Regions from separate parts of the Homo sapiens genome. Here region 1 is linked to region 2. The links come from fine-mapping of genetic effects on gene expression. A gene starts in region 2. The other region holds a variant in brackets. All regions are shown on one strand. Distances are between the middles of the regions.

The links. PIP is the estimated chance that this variant, and not a neighbour inherited with it, causes the effect. A credible set is the group of variants that fine-mapping cannot tell apart.
Region 1: its variant is the best candidate, but not a certain one, in a credible set for the expression of CYP17A1 in lung (TOPMed, PIP 0.59).

The regions. Positions count from the first base shown.
Region 1 is chr10:103,204,080-103,209,451 of GRCh38, reverse strand. No RefSeq gene overlaps it. Among named protein-coding and RNA genes, the nearest start is that of NT5C2, 13 kb to the right of the region's middle. RefSeq lists enhancers at 3,655-4,313, 4,314-4,973. The variant T/C (reference allele first, on the strand shown) is at 2,711.
Region 2 is chr10:102,835,327-102,840,641 of GRCh38, reverse strand. It overlaps CYP17A1 (cytochrome P450 family 17 subfamily A member 1), which reads left to right and starts at 3,229. Exons shown (of 8, transcript NM_000102.4): 1 at 3,229-3,577; 2 at 5,250-5,315. The coding sequence starts at 3,281. RefSeq lists a promoter at 2,990-3,269.

The DNA.
Region 1 (5,372 bases), 370 kb before region 2:
GAGGGGGATACACAATATCCTTTTGAGAATAGATGTTGGAGGAGCAGAAGGGTGTCCTGTTGGGAAGTTTTGTAGGAGGGGCTATAAAGTAGAAAGTTGTCAAAATATTTAATAAGGTGAGAAGCAGATGGATGGAAAGAAAGTAAATCATGAGAAAGGACTTTACTGAAGTAATGGGGGCTGTCGGTGAAGCCTTGCAGCAGTACAGCCCGGGTAAGTTGCTGAGACTGATGGGTGTCAGGGTCAGTCTATGTGAAAGCGAAGAGAGGCTGGGATGAAGGGTGCAAAGAAATAGTAAAGAAAGCATGTTTGAGATGCAGAACAGAATAATGGGTTGTGGAGGGAGGTATTGAGGATAAGACAGTATATGGGTTTGGCACCACGGGGTGGATAGGCAAAACAATTTGGTTGATAAGGTGCAGATCCTGAAGTAACTTGTAAGACTTGTCCCGTTTTTGGACAGGTAAAATGTGGGAATTGTAAGAAGAGTTTATAGGTTTTAGAAGCCCATGCTGTAGCAGGTGAGTGATAACAGGCTTCAATCCCCTTAAAGCCTGTTGTGGGATAGGATACTGGCGTTCAGTGGGGTAAGGGTGATTAGATTTTAGTGGGATAGTAGTGGGTGTGTGATCGGTTGCCAGGGAGGGGGTAGAGGTGTCCCATACTTGTGGGTTAAGGTAGGGGGATACGAGGGGAAGACATGAAGGAGGCTTTGGGTTGGGAAGAAGGGTGACAATGAGATTTGGCTGTAGTCCAGGAAGAGTCAGGGAAGCAGATAATTTGGTTAAAATGTCTTGGCCTAATAAGGGAACTGGGGCCAGGCACGGTGGCTCACGCCTGTAATCCTAGCACTTTGGGAGGCCGAGGTGGGCGGATCACGAGGTCAGCAGATCGAGACCATCCTCACTAACACGGTGAAACCCCATCTCTACTAAAAATACAAAAAAAAAAAAAATTAGCTGGGCGTGGTGGTGGGCACCTGTAGTTCCAGCTACTCTGGAGGCTGAGGCAGGAGAATGGCATGAACTCAGGAGGCGGAGCTTGCAGTGAGCTGAGATCGCGCCACTGCACTCCAGCCTGGGCGACAGAGCAAGACTCCATCTCAAAAAATAAAAAATAAAAAAATTAAGGGAACTAGGCAGGTGGGGATAACTAAAAAAGAGTGCATAAAATAATGTTGTCCAAGTTGGCACCAGAGTGGGGGAGTTTCAAGGGGTTTTGAAGCTTGGCCGTCAATACCCACAACAGTTATGAGGGCAAGGGAAACAGGCCCTTGAAAAGAAGGTAATGTGGAGTGGGTAGCCCCTGTGTTGATTAAACAGGGGACGGACTTACCCTCCACTGTGAGAGTTACCCAAAGCTCAGCATCCATGATGGTCCAGGGGGCTTCCAAGGTGATCAGGCAGCGTCAGTCTTCAGCTGCCAAGCCAAGCAAATCTGGGAAGCAGTCAGTCAGAGAGCCTTGGGCCAGACCTTTAGGGGCTCTAGGAGTGGCTGCCGGGTGAGCTGGGCAGTCTGATTTCCAGTGGGTCCCTGCACAGATGGGACATGGCTTGGGAGGAATCCTGGGCTGCAGGCATTCCTTGGCCCAGTGGCCAGATTTCTGGCACTTGAAGCAACAGCCTGTTGGAGGAGGTCCTGTAGGAATGCTTGACTGCTGCGGCTTAGGCAGTTTGAAGTTCTTGTGTGCTGGAGGTGTGGCTGGGTTTTGTCTCACAGCAAAGGCAAGTAATTGTAACTCAGAAATGCGTTGCTGTCTGGCTGCCTCCTCTCTATTATTGTACACCTTGAAGGTGAGGTTGATTAATTCCTGTTGTGGGGTTTGAGGGCTGGATTCTAATTTTTGAAGCTTTTTTCTAATGTCAGGAGCTGACTGGGTGATAAAATGCCTATTTAGAATAAGACGGCCTTCTGACCCTTCAGGGTCTAGGGCTGTAAAGCATCTCAGGGTTGCTGCCAAACAAGCCAGGAACTGGGCTAGGTTTTTGTCTTTACCTTGGGTAGTTTCTTTAAGCTTGTCAAAATTAACAGCTTTGTAAACTGCCTTTGTAAGCCCATCAACTAGGCAGGAAATCATGTAATCTCGCCTAATTATACCTGGGGAATCTGCCTGATAGTTCCATTGGGGATCATCTTGGGGAACTGCTCTAATGCCTTCTTGGAGGTCTGGCTTGTGAAGCCGGTGGTTATCAGTGTGAGATTGGGCTAGAGAAAAAACTCTTTCCTGTTCATCTGGGGAAAGGGTAGATGTTAGGATGACATTTAAATCACTCCAGGTTAAATTGCAGGACAGAGTTAGATACTGGAATTCCTATATATAATTAGTGGGGTCTGATGAGAAAGAGCCTAAACACTGACTGATCTGAGAGAGGTCTGATAGAGAAAAAGGCACAAGTACCCTGACTATGCCTTCAGCTCCAGCCACCTCTCTAAGAGGAAATCGTTGGGCAGGTAGGGGAGAGCCAGTCATGGAACAAAACTGTAAGCTGGACTGGGTGTGAGGAGGGGAGGTGATAAAAGGATTATAGGGTGGAGGAGCAGAGGCTGAGGAAGATTTGGAGCCTGATTCAGCCTGGCAGAAAGCAACATAGGGAGCAGTCTGGGGAGGAGGGGAGAGGTCAGATGGCTTGGTAGAAAAGGAAGATTGGAAAGACTCAGCAATGCTTGGGGTTGGGACTGAGGGGACAGGCGGTAGGGAAAGAAGGAGGAT[T/C]TGGGACGAATTGCATTGGGAACAGAGACTAGGGAGGGAACGAAGTGTGAAAAAATGCCTGTATGTAAGGCATCTCAGGCCATTTACCAATTTTTCGACAAAAATTATCTAGGTCCTGTAGGATGGAGAAATTGAAAGTGCTGTTTTCTGGCCATTTAGAGCATTTATCAAGTTTGTATTGGGGCCAAGCAGTGTTGCAGAAGAAAATAAGGCATTTAGGTTTTAGGTCAGGTGTGAGCTGAAGAGGTTTTAAGTTCTTGAGAACACAGGCTAAGGGAGAAGAGGGAGGAATGGAGGGTGGAAGGTTGCCCATAGTGAAGGAGGCAAGCCCAGAGAAAAGAGAGAGTAGACACATGGAGAGAAGGGGTGGGAGGGTACTTGCCCCCCAGGGGAGGTGGTGCTTGCCACCCAGTGAAAGTGGTACTGGCCACCAAGGTGAAGGATCAAGGCCAGACATCCCCCTGGTGATCAGACACCTCTGAAACGTGGGTAAGCGTCCCCACAGTGATTAAACACCAAGAGAAGACTGTCTTCCTGAGTCCGTGACCAGAGCTGGAGTTTTGGGTTCACAGATAAAACGCATCTCCTCTGTCTCTACCAGAAAAGGAAAGGAACTGAAATTAAGAGAAGGGAGAGATTGAAGGGTGGTGCCAAAATCGAAAGGAGAAAGAGGTTGAAGGATAGTGAGAGAGGTTGGAGAAGAGAGTAAAAATAGGCCACTTACCTGATTTAAAATTGGTGAGATGTTCCTTGGGCTGGTTGGTCTGAGGACCCGAGGTCGTAGGTGAATCTTTCTCATGGAGCAAAGAGCAGGACAGGGTATTGATCGCCCAAGGGAGGTCCCCCAATCTGAGTCATGGCACCAAATGTCATGCATGTCCGTGTGAAGAGACCACCAAACAGGCTTTGTGTGAGCAACAAGGCTGTTTATTTCACCTGGGTGCAGAAGGGCTGAGTCCGAAAAAGGAGTCAGCAAGGAAGATAGGGGTGGGACAGTTTTATAGGATTTGGGTGGGTAGTGGAAAATTACAGTCAAAGGGGGTTTTTCTCTTGTGGGCAGGGGCGGGGGTCACAAAGTGCTCGGTGGGGGAGCTTCTGAGCCAGGAGAAGGAATTTCACAAGGTTAATTGCTCAGTTAAGGTGGGGCAGGAACAAATCACAATGGTTGAATGTCATCAGTTAAGGTAGGAACCAGCCATTTTCACTTCTTTTGTGACTCTTCACTTGCTTCAGGCCATCTGGATGTATACGTGCAAGTCACAGGGGATATGATGGCTTAGCTTGGGCTCAGAGGCCTGACACCTAGATCATGGTGGGCTTGGAAAACTGTCTGAGTTTCAGGGACTGCACCCTATTTATGCCAATGAAATACCAACATTGATGCCTAGCATCTGACATCTGAATTGGAGCCACAAAAGGTGCTGAAGAGACTAATACTCTGAAGGTGAGGTGACATAGGGATTTATAATCCCTGATCCTGCAATAGTGAGTTTCTTTAGGTCAATTGTATAGTTTCTGTAGTACTCAGAAGATTATTTTTCAAAGTGGCCCTTTGGGCTAGCAAACAAGAAAGAGACACATGAAGTCAATGTTGCCTGGGCAGCAGACAGCAGGGGGTGGCTCGGATTGGCTATTACCATGGCAACATTGATTGCTGTCACAAGCACCGGTGAGGCAGATAGTTAACATTTTCAGAGAACACAGGGACTACTTGCATCAGAATTACTTAGGAATTTGTTTAAATTTCGAATTCCTAGGACCCAAGGCCAGAGAGTCACGATTGGTAAGACTGAGATATGGTATGGAATCTGCCTTTTAGAAAACTCCCCAGGCAACCATACCTGATGAAATTTGAGAACCACTGATTAAAAAAATACAGTGCATCCCTGTTACAAATCCCTATATAAACCCATCTCACCAGAGCCATTTTCTTGCTTACAAGGCCTTACAATCTTTAAAAGATGCAGTAAATGTGCTGATCTAGGAATTTATACTGATAAATGCCCAAGTTTTTTGAGTGCTAAATGTTTAAGTAGGTCTTTCAAGTTTTCAGCAAGCATGGAACTTTTTTCTTTCTTTCTTTTTTTCTTTCCTTTCTTTTTTTTTTAAATTGAGACAGGTCTCACTCTGTCACCCAGACTGGAGTGCAGTGGCTTAATCATGGCTCACTGCAGCCTTGACCTCCTGGGCTCAAGCGATCCTCCCACTTTAGCCTCATGAGTGGCTGGGACTACAGCTACAAGCCATCACAGCCAGCTAACTGTTTTTTTTGGTTTTTTGTTTTTTTGGGTTTTTTTTGAGATGGAGTTTCACTCTGTCGCCAGGCTGGAGTGCAGTGGTGCGATCTCAGCTCACTTCAACCTCCACCTCCCGGGTTCAAGTGATTCTCTTGCTTCAGCCTCCCGAGTAGCTGGGACTACAGGCGTGTGCCACCATACCCAGCTAGTTTTTGTGTTTTTAGTAGAGATGGGGTTTCACAATGTTGGCCAGGATGGTCTTGATCTCCTGACCTCGTGATCAGCCCGCCTTAGCCTCCCAAAGTGCTAGGATTACAGGCATGAGCCACCATGCCCGGCTGCCAGCTAACTTTTTAAAAAAATTTTTTGTGGATATGTGGTCTACCTATGTTGCCCAGGCTGGTCTTGAACTTCTGGGCTCAAGC
Region 2 (5,315 bases):
TTATTGGGAGGACGAGGATCATCATCCTACTTTGCATAGGAGGTTCAGCTCATTCTGTCCCTTAAAATGGGAAGATAAGAGCATTACCCCCTGCCACCCGAGGCCTCTTATGATATCCCCCATTCTGAGCCCAGAACACCCAGAACTTTGGAAATTGGCTATTGCCATGTCCAGACTGCGAGTATGGGAAGGGGAAACTTTTCTTTCTGTTGTCCCCACTACCACCCCTCACATCCGTGATTCTGAAACCCATGATAAATCCCCTTTGGACCATTTTCCTCTTTTTGATGCCAGTCCTCCTTTATGGGACTCTGATTGGCATTATGATAATTCTTCTGGACCCAGGTATGTCCCCCTACCTCTTCAGAATCCCCGGGCACCTCGGATTGCTTCTTTACGGCATCAAACATTGGGCGTTGCCACCGCCACTCCTCCCCCTCGGTATCAACGTAGATTCAAACATTCTGCTTTGTTTACCTCCAGCCTGACTATTATACAGAGTTGTGTTAAGCCTCCTTACATGCTGTTAGTGGGAAATATCAAAATTTGGATGAACAATCAAACCGTCCAATGCATTAATTGTCATTTATCCACTTGTGTTAACTCCCGTTTTGACTCAGGAAAAGTGTAATGTTGGTTCGAGCTTGAGAAGGAATCTGGATACCAGTAACTTTACCCAGAACTTGGGAATCTTCCCCCTCAGTACATTTAATTAATGAAGTGTTACAACGAATTCTCAAAAGATCAAGAGATTTGTTTTCACTTTAATCACTGTGATCATGGGCCTAATTACAGTCACTGCACTGGCCACCACTGCCGGAGTGGCATTACACCAATCTATTCAAATGGCTAATTTTGTTAATGATTGGTAAGGCAATTCCACCCAAATGTGGAATCCTCAACAAGGCATTGATCAAAAATTAGCTAATGATTTAAGACAGTCTGTTATTTGGCTTGGGGACCAGCTAATGAGTCTCGAACATCACATGCAAATGCAGTTCGATTGCAACACTTCTGATTTCTATAGCACACCATATTCCTACAACGAGACTGATCATGGGAAATGGTCAAAGGACACCTTCTGGGTAGGGAAGATAATTTATCCTTGGACATAACTAAATTAAAGAAACAAATTTTTGAAGCCTCTCAAGCTCATTTATCCATTGTGCCTGGAGCTGAGGCGTTAGATCAGGTGGCAGAAAGTCTTTCTGGACTAAACTCCACAACTTGGATTAAGTCTACTGGGGGCTCCACTGTAGGAAATTTTGGAATCATGTTTCTCTGTTTAATCGGCTTGTTTTTAGTGTGCCAGACCAGTCAAAGAATCCTGCATCAAAACCGAGAGAACGAGCAAGCCTTCATCGCCACGGCACATTTATATAAAAAGAAAGGGAGAGATGTTGCGGGAAGTCAGGGACCCTGAATGGAGGGACTGGCTGGAGCCATGGCAGAGGAACATAAATTGTGAAGATTTCATTTTAATATGGACATTTATCAGTTCCCAAATAATACTTTTATAATTTCTTATGCCTGTCTTTACTTTAATCTCTTAATCCTGTTATCTTTGTAAGCTGAGGATGTTTGTCACTTCAGGACCACTGTGATAATTGTGTTAACTGTACAAATTGATTGTAAGACATGTGTTTGAACAATATGAAATTAGTGCACCTTGAAAAAGAACAGAATAAGAGCAATTTTTAGGGAACAAGGGAAAACAACCATAAGGTCTGACTGCCTGCAGGGTCGGGCAGAAAGAGCCATATTTTCCTTCTTGAGAGAGGCTATAAATGGACATGCAAGTAGGGAAGATATCACTAAATTCTTTTCCTAGCAAGGAGTATTATTATTAATACCCTGGGAAAGGAATGCATTCCTGGGGGGAGGTCTATAAACAGCCGCTCTGGGAATGTCTATCTTGTGCAGTTGAGATAAGGACTGAGATACGCCCTGGTCTCCTGCAGTACCCTCAGGCTTACTAGGGTGGGGAAAAACTCCGCCCTGGTAAATTTGTGGTCAGACCGGTTCTCTGCTGTCGAACCCTGTTTGCTGTTGTTTAAGGTGTTTATCAAGACAGTATGTGCACCGCTGAACATAGACCCTCATCTGTAGTTCTGCTTTTGCCCTTTGCCTTGTGATCTTTGTTGGACCCTTATCAGTGGTTCTGCTTTTGCCCTTTGCCTTGTGATCTTTGTTGGACCCTTATCGGTAGTTCTGCTTTTGCCCTTTGTCCTTTCCCTCAGAAGCATGTGATCTTTGTTAGACACTTATTAGTAGTTCTGCTTTTCGCCCTTTGAAGCATGTGATCTTTGTACCTACTCCCTGTTCTTACACCCCCTCCCCTTTTTGAAACCCTTAATAAAAACTTGCTGGTTTGAGGCTCAGGTGGGTATCACAGTCCTACCGATATGTGATGCCACCCCCGGCGGCCCAGCTGTAAAATTCCTCTCTTTATACTGTCTCTCTTTATTTCTCAGCCGGCTGACACTTATAGAAAGAACCTACGTTGAAATATTGGGGGTGGGTTCCCCCAGTACGCTAGTCCTGCTGATGAGCAAAGAAGGTGTTGATGGCATTTTGATCAACAAGAAATGTTATGAAACGGCCTCCCACCTCTGGCATTCCTAGTACTGACCTATCTCTCCCTTCCCTTCCACCGCTCCCCACAGCTTAGCACCCCTTTCGTTCCCATACACATGTACATTTTTATTTTGGGGACCATTAACCCACAGCCCTTATCGCTGCCAAAACCACATGGGCTGGAGGGCCAGGGCTGCATGGACAGTCACACCACTGCACACCAGCCTGGTGATGGAGCAAGACTCTGAAAAAAAAAAAAAGAAGCATAAAAGACCTTTAACAGTCCCTGCTACTTGTGACCCTCCTGAATCTGTCATCTGTCCAGTGATTTTGATTTTGCAACATGGAAAGTTCCAAGCCTTGACTCCTGAGCCCAGATACCATTCGCACTCTGGAGTCATTCAAGCATGGGGAGCTCCTCAGAGGGTGATCAACTGACCTCCCTTACCTAGCTCCTCCTCCGGAGGTTTGCCCTGGAGTTGAGCCAGCCCTTGAGGAGGCCTTCACTCCCACCGCCTCTCTCCCTTCTGGATATGAGCTCAGGCCTGGCTGGGCTCCAGGAGAATCTTTCCACAAGGCAAGAGATAACACAAAGTCAAGGTGAAGATCAGGGTAGCCCTTTAAAAGGCCTCCTTGTGCCCTAGAGTTGCCACAGCTCTTCTACTCCACTGCTGTCTATCTTGCCTGCCGGCACCCAGCCACCATGTGGGAGCTCGTGGCTCTCTTGCTGCTTACCCTAGCTTATTTGTTTTGGCCCAAGAGAAGGTGCCCTGGTGCCAAGTACCCCAAGAGCCTCCTGTCCCTGCCCCTGGTGGGCAGCCTGCCATTCCTCCCCAGACACGGCCATATGCATAACAACTTCTTCAAGCTGCAGAAAAAATATGGCCCCATCTATTCGGTTCGTATGGGCACCAAGACTACAGTGATTGTCGGCCACCACCAGCTGGCCAAGGAGGTGCTTATTAAGAAGGGCAAGGACTTCTCTGGGCGGCCTCAAATGGTAAGTGGTGCCCATCTCCTCCCTGCCCCCTTCACCACCCCCTGGGATTGTTCAGGTCTTCAGACCATGCCTAGAATGGGGCTTCCAGCTCCAACAACCTGTAATTCTTCCCAAAGTAGACTAGTGGGATGATGTGAAGGGAGTGAACCTTCAGACCCCCACCCAGCCTCTAAATTAGGCAGGAAGAATTAAAGGAATGTCTCCTCTACCAGGCTGCCCAGGAGGTGGGATGGGAGGACCACAGTGGTCTGAGGGGTCAAGGAATCCTCACTCCACTCCTCTCTCTGAGCCTAGACTTCTCTAATGGACTGAGAAGGTGCATGTACAGCACTTAGCCTAGCACCCAGCACAGTAAGTGCCCCTTATACAGCCAGGATTCATGTTACTTTTCATGGAAAATGGGGGCAGTGACTACTGTCCTCCATGAAAGCTGCTGGGGAGAATTAGCCTAGCTATTGCAGGCTGGGATTGCTGCTTTCCTGGTGCTATTTCCAGCTACTCAGGCTCACAGGGGCAGTTTTCTACAATGACATTTCAGGGTTGCTGATGAGCCTCCCACTCAGCAGGGCCCCCAGCCTCTCAGCATTTTTTTTTTTTTTTTTTTTTTTTGAGACAGAGTCTCTCTCTGTCGCCCAGCCTGGAGTGCAGTGGCCAATCTCAGCTCACTGCAACCTCTGCCTCCCGGGTTCAAGTGATTCTCCTGCCTCAGCCTCCTGAGTACCTGGGACTACAGGAGCATGCCACCATGCCCGCTAATTTTTTGTATTTTTAGTAGAGATGGTGTTTCACCATGTTAGCCAGGATGGTCTCGATCTCCTGACCTCGTGATCCTCCCACCTTAGCCTCCCAAAGTGCTAGGATTATAGGCGTAAGCCACTGTGCCCTGCCAGCCTCTCAGCTTTGATCAAGCCAAGGGTTGGTTTATTTTTTCTTGGACCAATCAGCCAGGTCTGCTGACCAACTACCTAGCTCCCACCTCTGCTGGCTTCCTCCCGGGGGCAGAGAAGATGGAGAAGGCTAGTCATGTGGATCTTCAGGGTCAGGAAATGGAAAAGGGAGGCTTTGGACCCTTTTGCTTTGGGGGGCACCTCTAGGAGGAGGCGGCTCGGCCCAAGTCCAGACTGGGTAGACAAAACATCTGCACTCTCCAAATGTGGGCTTGTGGCTGGGTATGCAGGCTTGCAATGGAAGGGTAAACCTGAGTGAGGTGAGCTGTGCCTTTAGCTCAGCTAAGGGCTCAGGGAAAAGCAGAGATCTGTGCAGTCCTCAGCCTCTACAAGCTCACCTGCTCCCTACCCTCTGGACAGGCATAGTTTAGAGAGTTTATCCCATCCAGAGTTGCCTTCCTGTGGTCAGAAACTGATGAGCAAAAAGAAGCCCAGAGGGCACCCTGTCAGCGAAAAGAACCCCAATGCTGCTGCATTCTAATTAAGGGTTCTTTCTTTCTCCTTGATCTACTGTATTTCTGAAGGAATTGGGAGTAGGAGGCCTTAGGGTCTGTCCTACCAAGTCCTTGCAGTCATGGTGGAGTGCAGTGGGGCTGTGCCCACATGGGAGTCAGCATGCCAGGTACCTGCCTTCTCCTCCAGGAAGGAAAGCAGGGACCAGAGGTGTAAGGGCAAGAGTGGGGTGGATGGTGTGAGATTCCTACAGCCTTGCCTGCTCTCTAAAGGCAACTCTAGACATCGCGTCCAACAACCGTAAGGGTATCGCCTTCGCTGACTCTGGCGCACACTGG